Regions from separate parts of the Homo sapiens genome. Here region 2 is linked to region 1. The links come from fine-mapping of genetic effects on gene expression. Tissue or cell type: breast. Region 1 holds a variant in brackets; the other region holds the start of a gene. All regions are shown on one strand. Distances are from middle to middle.

Region 1 (5,147 bases):
AGTCCTCGGCAAGGACACATTTTCCAGCTGGGCCCCAAGCAAGTTCACAGAAGGAGTCCTTCTCTCCCCGTCCCTTAACTTGTTGTGGAGAAGCTGACTGAAGCAGGGAGAACCCAGCTCCCCACCCCCATATACCTTCCGTCAATCAATTCATGTGGAGTAGAGGTAAAACAGTCCCAGTTTGTCTCTTTTTCAAAAATAACTATCCTCTTTGATTTTGTGAGCAACATATGTTCATTATGAACAATTTTTTTTTTTTTTTTTGAGATGGAGTCTCTCTCTGTCGCCCAGGCTGGAGTGCAATGGCGTAGTCTCGGCTCACTGCAAACTCCGCCTCCCAGGTTGAAGTGATTCTCCTGCCTCGGCCTCCCAAGTAGCTGGAATTACAGGCGCCCACCACCATGCCTGGCTAATTTTTGTATTTTTAGTACAGATGGGGTTTTACCATGTTGGCCAGGCTGGTCTCGAACTCCTGACCTTGTGATCCACCCGCCTCAGCCTCCCAAAGTGCCGGGATTACAGGCGTGAGCCTGGATCTGGTAAGGCTTTAACAAAGGCCTCCACCTTCCCTAGGGCCTGACTACAGCTGGTAGGTGGCCTGTGTGAGGCAGGTTGGATGTCTGTTCCTACACATAGCCCTTCTGGCCGTCCAGGGCCCAGAGTGAATGGGGCTAAAGGGACAAGAGCACGATTGGCTCTAACCCAGGGATGCTGCTGTGTCCAAGATGCAGTATAAGTGCACCTAGATTGTAGTGAACAGCACATCAGACATGCTGCTGTAATAGATACAAAATCATAACATCATAGCCAAGATTTATGGGGCACTTACTCTGGGGCAGACCTTGTTCTAAATGCTTTTCTTATATTAACTCACATACTCTTTTTTTTTTTTTTTTTTGAGATAGGGTCTCGCTTTGTCATTCAGGCTGGAGTGCAGTGGTGCGATCTTGGCTCACTGCAACCTCCGCCTCCTGGGTTCAAGCGATTCTCCTGCCTCAGCCTCCCGAGTAGCTGGGATTACAGGAGTGTGCACCATCACGCCTGGCTAATTTATGTATTTTTAATAGAGATGAGGTTTCACCATGTTGGCCAGGCTGGTCTCGTACTCCTGGCCTCAAGTGATCCACCCGCCTCGGCCTCCCAAAATGTTGGGATTACAGGTGTGAGCCACCGTGCCCAGCCCCACTTACTCCCCTTAACAGCCCTATCAGATGGGCGCCATTATTCCTATTTTAAGAATGAGGAAACTGGGGCCCAGAGAGGTTAAGTTACTTGCTCAAGGTCACCCAGCCAGTAATGTAAGCAAGAAACAAGCTTGTATTGTTTTCAGCCACTGAGATTTTAGAGTGGTTTGTTACTGTAGCATAACCTAGCCCATTCTGAAATATGTATGCACATGTATTTGATATATGTTATATGTTGTATAAATTGTATATTTATATAAATCTATTTACATGTAATTATATATTATTTATATAAATCATATAAATTGTGTATCAGTGCACAACTTGACCAAGTGTCCAAGGCCCTGGTGGGGAAAGCAGAAATATGGGCAGTGGTTCCCTCTAGATGAGTTAGGAGACCTGGGTGTGCCCCATATGTAAAGGAGGAAGGCAAACAAGAGAAAAAGACAGGGCAGGGCAAGCGCTGGCTTTAAGCTTTCCTGGCAGCATCCAGGTTAAGTGCACCTGCACCCAAATGCTGGTTCCATAAATGAGCCAGCTTTTAAGTGTGTGGCTAGGGAGTACGCATCCCACCAGGCATCAGAGAAAGCTGTTGCTGCATAGACAGGCCCCCAGGCTTGGCCTGGGAGCTTTCCAGGACCAGCAGGTAGCAGCTCACCCATGCACCTGTGTGCCTGCACTCTCACACTCACACATACCCCAGGGCACCAGGCGCACACTCCATGTCCCCTGCCCTGTGCCCCTAGTAGGTGATGGTGATGATGTGAGGCTCAGAATTAGATGGAAGGATGAATTCAGGGCTCTCAAGAAGGGAGAGATGCAACCTTCAGGAACATGAGAGTGTGGCCAGAACAGGATGAGTGTGTACGAGTGTGTGTATGTGTGTGCACGTCTCTGTGTACTGGTGCAGGCTAATGTAGGAGGGGGTTCTCTCTGGCTGTTCAAGGCTTATCTTGGAAG[C/T]CCACAGACTCTGCATCCACCCAGGTGCCCTCAAATGTTAGCACACTCATGGTATGATTGGACCCCCTCAGTTGTGATGGCCAAGTGCAGTGCACAGCCTGGATAACTGTACACAGCAGCCCTGTCAAGAGCCCACAGTTGGCCATCTCTGGACAAGAAGCCAGCTCTATCTCATATATACCTCAATTCCATGATTGAAGGCAGAATCCAAAACCACTGTGAATCCACTCAAACCAGGAGAAGAAGGTCACAAAGGTCATAGGATCAGAGCAGCTTCTAGCTGACACCCACTCCGTGGTGGTAAGAAGGGATTAGAAGATTGCAAACTGGGTTAAAAAATCCTCTCACCTACAGCTCAAGGCTGTAATCCTAAGGACTCTGCTTCTCTAAGCCTTGTTCTATTTTCAACTCTTTTCTCCAGGGTACAGTCTCCCCTGGGGCTGCAAGGATTTAGTGGAGACTCTTAACACCAGTTCTCTGGCATCTGTGAGTTTGAGTGTGGGCCATCATCTTCTTCCTTCTGCTCTCTCCCTCTCCACATTTCCCGGTACCATCTGATCCATCAGGCCCTTCTTTGCTCAGGCCTGAAGGACTCAGGCCTGTGAGAGAGGACGGCCCCGTTGTCGGCCAAGACACCTTTGGGCGAGGAGCAGCGAACAGGGCCTGTCCATCTCAGACGTCAGCCCCCTGAAGGCCTGAGCAATGGGCAACGTGATGGAGGGAAAGTCAGTGGAGGAGCTGAGCAGCACCGAGTGCCACCAGTGGTACAAGAAGTTCATGACTGAGTGCCCCTCTGGCCAACTCACCCTCTATGAGTTCCGCCAGTTCTTCGGCCTCAAGAACCTGAGCCCGTCGGCCAGCCAGTACGTGGAACAGATGTTTGAGACTTTTGACTTCAACAAGGTGAGCAGGGGCCCAGTGGCAGGGAGGGGAAGTGCTGGAGGGACCCCTCTGGAAGCCTGACCAGCTGGGGGTGAGGAAGAGCAGAGAGGAGCATAGAAGTGTCCGCTGGGGAGCAACTTCATTTATACAGTCATTTGTTTATTTGATAGGTGGGTTTTTGACACTAGGGTTTCAACGGATCTAATGTTTGTGCTTTAATGAGCACCAACTGTGAATCAGGCACTGGGGGGTTAGAAATGTATCAGACATTGTCCCTGCCCTCACTTTCTAGGGCAAGACAGAGAGGCCCACACATTAGTGTAATCCGAGGCTGAATCCAATGGCTTCCTCCACCTCTGCCACAGGCATATCTTGGTTTACTCCAAAACGAGTGTAAACACTTCCAAGATGGTCATTGAACACCTGCGATGTGCTGGTCCTATACGTGGTGCTTTTGCAAACACCCTTTGAAGCTCCCAAGGATGTGGGCAGAGGGGCAGAGAGCAGGGAGCAAGATGATGATTCTCTAGCCTCACTGTCTGGCATGGGCAGGCCACTTATAATATTCTGCGGACATGAGGACTGGAGACAGACAGGGTTGCCTGGTCCCTGGAGAACCCAGAATGCTCCCAACTTCAAAATACCCAGTGACCTCATATCACCTTTTCTCAAGTGAGCCTGAAGGTCCACACCGTGGTCAAATTGTGTCTCCTCAGTAGCCACCTGGACGCATTAGGTAAGGACTTCCTAATTGATAAGCTAGAGGGGTCACTGAAAGGTGAGTTTGGGACTGTGGGTTTGGGTCCCTAGCTTTCATCCGCTGGGTGACCTTGAGCCCATCATTTCCCCTCTCAGTCCCAGTATATTCATGATGCCGTGGATGTTGGGAGCATTAGTTAAGATGTTTGTTGGTTTTCATAGTAAATCTTCCATTCATTTGGAACTATTTGGTCAAGACATAGTTGTGGAAGAGCCCAAATCTGCAAACGTGGCTCCCCACCCTGTGGCCCCTCACTTGAAAAGTGAGGATGCAATGAGGCGCTGCCGCGTGTCCTCTGCAGACCCGGGAGAGGTTCCTTCCCTCGCTGCCCAGAAGGTCCAGGCACCATCATGGGTGGGGCTTCTTGGGAAAGCTGGGGCTCAGTGGCTATTTAAAACTCACTAATATTTAAGGATAAGGGACCAAAGTAGATTACGGGCTTTGAGTGTCAACCTCAGGTGTAGTATGAGGGAGCCCAAGGGCTTTCCCGAAGCGGGAGCAGGTGAGCAGAGTCCAGAGCCTGTGTACAGAGACTGGGAGGGATGGCATCATCACATTCAACACTCAAAATGCTCCCGAAGAAGGAATAACTCCTGAACAGGAGGGGAAGGACAAATGGATGGTTGAGCCTCACACCTTACCCCCAAACAGCGACATATCTCATCTTCTCACCTGCTAAGAAAACCCTTTGGGTTAAGACATGTCTGCAGAAGGACCCTTACAGTCACACATATGACGCCGGTGGGGGTGGGGGAGGGCAACCCTGGGGCACATCGACCCTGTATTTGCCTAATCATGTCTTTTTTTTTTTTTTTTTTTTTTTTTGAGATGGAGTCTCGCTCTGTCGCCCAGACTGGAGTGCAGTGGCGTGATCTCGGCTCACTGCAACCTCCACCTCCTGGGCTCAAGCGATTCTTCTGCCTCACTCAGCCTCTCAAGTAGCTGGGATTACAGGCACCCACAACCATGCCTGGCTAATTTTTGTATTTTTAGTAGAGATGGGGTTTCACTATGTTGGCCAGGCCGGTCTCAAACTCTTGACCTCAGGTGATCCGCCCACCTCGGCCTCCCATAGTGCTGGGATTACAGGCGTGAGCCACCACGCTGAGCCAACCATGTCTTAATGTGTGTCCCATGCGAGCACCACCTGTACTGTACCAAACCTGACCCTTGTCTTTCCACTGAAAGTAAATCAACCCCTTGTTTCTAGGCAGTCTGGCCTCCTCCCTTATTCCACACACACCCCCGCCTTAGGGGTTTTGTGCTGCCTGGGACCCTCTCTGCCCCCAGAATTCTGCTCGGCTTACACCTTCCTCTGCTGCAAGTCTCTGCTTAGAAGTCTCCTCACTAACCCCTGCCGT
Region 2 (5,147 bases), 44 kb after region 1:
ACAAGACTTTCCAGTTTTAGGAAACAAACGATACTACTACATATAACAGCTGTTTTTTCCTTTCAACTTTTCTGAGATTTTGAAGTGTAACCTGAGAAAGTGGAAACACAATAGAATCCTTAAAAACACAATGAAGATGAAAATAAGGCCAGGTGCCGTGGCTCACACCTGTAATCCCAGCACTTTGGGAGGCCAAGGTGGGTGGATCACTTGTAGTCAGGAGTTCCAGAGCAGCCTGGCCAACATGGTGAAACCCTGTCTCTACTAAAAATACAAAAATTAGCCAGGCATGGTGGCGGTGCGGTTGTGATCCTAGTTACTTGGGAGGCTGAGGCAGGAGAATCGCTTGAACCCGGGAGGCGGAGGTCCAGGCTGGGTGACAGAGCGAGACTCCCTCTCAAAAAAAAAAAAAGAAGTTTAGCATAAGTGAAGTTTCATTAATACAAATGATTGTCACCTAAGTACGTTTTTGTTTGTTTTTTCAGGGTTTTTTTGAGACAAGGTCTCACTCTGTTATCCAGGCTGGAGTGCAGTTGCATGATCATGGCCTGGACCTCCCAGGTTCAGGTGGTCCTCCCACCCCAGTCTCCCAGATAGCTGGGACTACAGGCACGGGCCACCAGGCCCAGCTAATATTTTGTACTTTTGTAGAGATGGGGTTTCACCATATTTCCCAGGCTGGTCTTGAACTCGTGGGCTCAAGCGATCCTCCAGCCTCAGTGTCCCAAAGTGCTGGGATTTCAGGAGTGAACCACCACCTAGCCACGTTTTAAAAGCCTATTCTTAGCTTATTGTCCTTCCTCTCCTTACCCAAGATAGAGACAAATCATAACTCTATAATCTTCTTTGCACCAAAGGGGAAAAGGAAAAAGGAAATCAGGTACAACACAAAGTGGTAAGAGGTATGTGCCATTCTTCAGACAAAATTGCATAGAAAATTCCCTCCCAACAATTACACCAGTGACCCCACAATCGAGTTGTGCAAGAGGAGCAAGAATATTACACTTCTCAGTCACATTCTCCCACTATAAACCTCTGCTTTTTCTTTTCTTTTTTTTTTCTTTTCTTTTTTTTTTTTTTTTTGAGAGAGTCTTGCTCTGTCGCCCAGGCTGGAGTACAGTGGAGCATTCTCAGCTCACTGAAACCTCCGCCTCCTGGGTTCAAGCAAGTCTCCTGCCTTAGCCTCCTGAGTAGGTGGGATTACAGGGGCCCACCGCCACACTCAGCTAATTTTTGTATTTTTAGTAGAGACGGAGTTTTGCCATGTTAGCCAGGATGGTCTTGATCTCCTGATCTCGTGATCCGCCCACCTCGGCCTCCCAAAGTGTAGGGATTACAGGCGTGAGCCACCGTGCCCGGCCAAGAAGTTTTTAAATTGCATTTTTTCTTTGTATTTCTTGAGAGAGAGAGAGAGAGAGAGAGAGAGTGTGTGTGTGTGTGTGTGTGTGTGTGTTGGGGGAGTGGTGGTTTGGAAGGGAGGGCTGTCTGGGTAAATTTGTCTTAATAAAGCAGTTCAAAAATTTCAATCTCTAATACCATCTGACTTTTCTCAAGAACAGTGGTTTTCAGGCCGGGTGCGGTGGCTCAAGGCTGTAATCCCAGCACTTTGGGAGGCCGAGGCTGCCGGATCACTTGAGGTCAGGAGTTCGAGACCAGCCTGACCGACATGGTGAAACCCCGTCTCTGCTAAACATACAAATACTAGCTGGGCATGGTGACGCATGACTGTAATTCCAGCTGCTCGGGAGGCTGAGGTAGGAGAATCACTTGAACCCGGGAGGTGGAGGCTGTAGTGAGCCGAGATCGTGCCATTGCGCTCCAGCTTGGGCGACAAGAGCGAAACTCCGTCTCCAAACAAAAACAAAAACAAAAACGGTGGTCTCAAAGTGTAGTCTGAGGACGTCTGTGGGGTCTGAGACACTTTCAGGGGATCCGGGAAATCAAAACTATTTTCATAAAACCAAAACGTCATTTACAACTTTTCCACTCATTCTCTTACCAGTGTACAGTGAAGTTTTCCCGTGACAGCCTGAGGTGTGATATAGGAAAAGATTAAATACAGAAGCAGATTTGAATCTAGCTTTTATTAAGCCAGAAATTAAAGAGAGCTGCAAAAATGTAAAACATTGCTGCTCCTTACTCAGTTTGTTCAGAAAATATATTTTTCATAAAGTATTAGTTGTAACATGTAATGAGTTAGTGTTACTTTTAAATCAATATATATTCTTAAGTTTTATTTTCCAAAAAGCTAAATATAGATAGCAAAAACCCACAAAAACAAAAGCTCTCTGGAGTCCTGAACTCCGAAAGTGTAAAGTGGTCCCAAGGCCAAAAAGCAGGAGAACCGCTGCTGAAAAGTTTTTGCTCCTCCTGCAAATAACTGCGCAGAGGATATCTAACCCACTTCTCTGGCTTGAGACCTTCATCTAAATTTGGATGCCAGGAAAGCATCTCAATTTAGTTCCATGGGAAGAGTCTGATATCTTGCACCAGCTCAGCCTCTAATTTTCGCGAGGCAAATTTCCTGTCTTCTCTGAGCCTCAGTTTATTTTGCAAGCGTGAAAGGAGGGGTTTTGGAACATACGAAGTACAAAATCTTTTCCAGCTCTGACATTCTACGATTATTCTTGTTCCTATCTTTGCCTGGACTCACTAACTTATATTTAATTCCATGAGAGAATTCTGATAAAACTAGCCCCTTTCTCGTCACTTTCCTGTAAACGGCGCGAGGTGAGGGATAAATATCAGGAAAAATCCTGATGGGCAGAGCGGCTGGTGGCAGGGAAACTTAAAAGCAACTATCCCGGTCAGCCCTCCTAGTCTCCCTAGCCAATCCAGTACCTGCCAGAGGCGCCGGCACACAGCACCGAACGCTGTCCGCGCCGCCATCTTGCCGGTCCCGACCTCTCAGGATTGCTTCCGGGGTTACAGCGGCGTCCTCAGACCATAGAGTTCCGCAAAAGAAGAGAGTACATCCTCATGTTCCGGCGCTGGAACAACCATAGAGACATGAACCTGTGCTTTTTGGGGGCGGGACAGTTGGCTGGCCAGGCTGGTTTGGCTCCGGCCAGTGTCTGGATAGTTACCAAGCCCTATTAATGTTTTCACCTTTAAATTGTTGTGTGTGTATACACACACACACACACACACATTTATTTATTTACTTATTTTTTCCTTTTAGAGACTGAGTCTCACTCGGCTGCCCAGGCTGGAGTGCAGTGGCACAGTCATAGCTCACTGCAGCCTCAAACTCCTGCCTCAAGTGATCCTCCTGCCTCAGCCTCCCAAGTAGCTGGACTACAAGTGCGTGCCACCACAGCCGACTAATTTTTTGTTTTTTTTTTTAATTTTCTTGTAGAGACAGGGTCTCATTATATTGCTCTCGTTATTTTGTGGGCTGGTCTTGAATTCCTGTCCTCAAGTGATCCTCTGGCCTTGGCCTCCCAAAGGACTGAGATTACAGGCATGAACCACAAAGCCCGGACTGAAACTAGTGTATTGACACCATTTACTTCAGTACTGGAATAATGGGTGATTTATTTTCCTATTTTTGCATTTTTCAATTTTTTTTGCATTTTTCAAAATTTTAACAAAATCTATATTTAACAAGAAAAAGAAAAGTCGGCCACTACCATTGGGTCCAGTTGCCACTCAGTTACCTTATTGCAGCGGCTTTCTAATTATGGTTCTTAATCCTTTCTTCCTTCCCCACACCAATTGGAATTCCTGTGCTCCAACCATTTTGTATACCGCTGTCCTACTGATCTTTCTAAATTATTCATTTCCTTATGTTACTCTAGTATTTAGGAATTTACAATGGCTAGCTTCACTTACAACAAGCCAAAGTGTTTTGTCTAATTATTAATGTCCACCATAATTTTTTCCAAGTAAAAAGATGTATAACTGGGATTTGCTATAATAAAAACTTCTTCAGGCTGGGTGCGGTGGCTCACGCCTGTAATCCCAGCACTTTGGGAGGCTGAGGTGGGCGGATCACCTGAGGTCAGGAGTTCGAGACCAGCCTGGCCAACATGGTGAAACCCCATCTCTACTAAAAATACAAAAAATTAGTGGGGTGTCATCGTTGTGTGCCTGTAGTCCCAGCTACTCAGGAGGCTGAGGCACGAGAATTGCTTGAACCCGGGAAGTGGAGGTTGCAGTGAGGCAAGATCGTGCCACTGCACTCCAGCCTGGGAGACACAATGAGACTCTGTCTAAAAAAAAAAAAAAAAAAAGAAAAGAAAAGAAAAGGCCAGGTGCAGTGGCTCGGCTCACACCTGTAATTCCAGCACTCAGCACTTTGGGAGGCCAAGGCGGGTGGATCACCTGACGTCAGAAGTTCAAGATCAGCCTGGCCAACATGGCAAAACCCTGTCTCTACTAAAAATACAAAGTCAGGCATGGTGGTGTGCACCTGTAATCCCAGCTATTTGGGAGGCTGAGGCAGGAGAATCTCTTGAACCCGGGAGGCAGAGAGTGCAGTGAGCCGAGATTGAGATTGTACCACTGCACTCCAGTCTAGGGAACAGAGCGAGACTCCGTCTCCAAAAAAAAAACTTATTCCATTTGTGCAAATCTTTAAAAATTTATTTTTATTTTTCCTTTTACTTTCTCCTCATCTTAAAGTCTGCTTCTATAATACTATATTGTCTTTTTTGTGTGTGTGTGTGAGACAGTGTCTCGCTCTGTTGCCCAGGCTGGAGAGCACTGGCTTGATCATAGCCCACTGCAGCCTCAAACTCCTGGGGTTAAGTGATCCTCACACCACAGCCTCTGGAGTATCTAAAACTACAGGTGTTTGCGACCATTTTTTATTTTATTTTTATTGTTTTGTAGAGACAGAGACTTGCTATGTTGCCCAGGCTGGTCTCAAACTCCTGGCTTCCAGCAATCCTCTCACCTTGGCCTCCCAAAGTGCTGGTTTTACAGGTATGAGCCACTGCACTTGGCCCATTTGTTCACATTTCTAAGCTTTATTTCCCCAAAGTGCTTTCACATATGCATTTTAGCCTAATGGAAAACTCTAGCCTTATAATCAGATCTGGTTTCTAATCCCAGGCTTACCAGTTAGTTGAGTGACTTTGAGCAAGTTACTTCCTTACCCTCAGCCTCAGTTTGCTCATATGTCAAAAAAAAAAAAAAAAAAA

What was found. PIP is the estimated chance that this variant, and not a neighbour inherited with it, causes the effect.
Region 2: MRPS10 starts here. The variant in region 1 is fine-mapped to the expression of MRPS10 in breast (GTEx, PIP 0.94).

Annotation. Positions count from the first base shown.
Region 1 is chr6:42,170,768-42,175,914 of GRCh38, forward strand. It overlaps GUCA1ANB-GUCA1A (GUCA1ANB-GUCA1A readthrough), which reads left to right. Exons shown (of 5, transcript NM_001319062.2): 2 at 2,566-3,047. The coding sequence starts at 2,847. GUCA1A (guanylate cyclase activator 1A) reads left to right here and starts at 2,597. Exons shown (of 4, transcript NM_001384910.1): 1 at 2,597-3,047. The coding sequence starts at 2,847. The variant C/T (reference allele first, on the strand shown) is at 2,145.
Region 2 is chr6:42,214,961-42,220,107 of GRCh38, forward strand. It overlaps MRPS10 (mitochondrial ribosomal protein S10), which reads right to left and starts at 2,901. Exons shown (of 7, transcript NM_018141.4): 1 at 2,842-2,901. The coding sequence starts at 2,889. RefSeq lists enhancers at 1,013-1,615, 1,616-2,217, 2,789-3,068.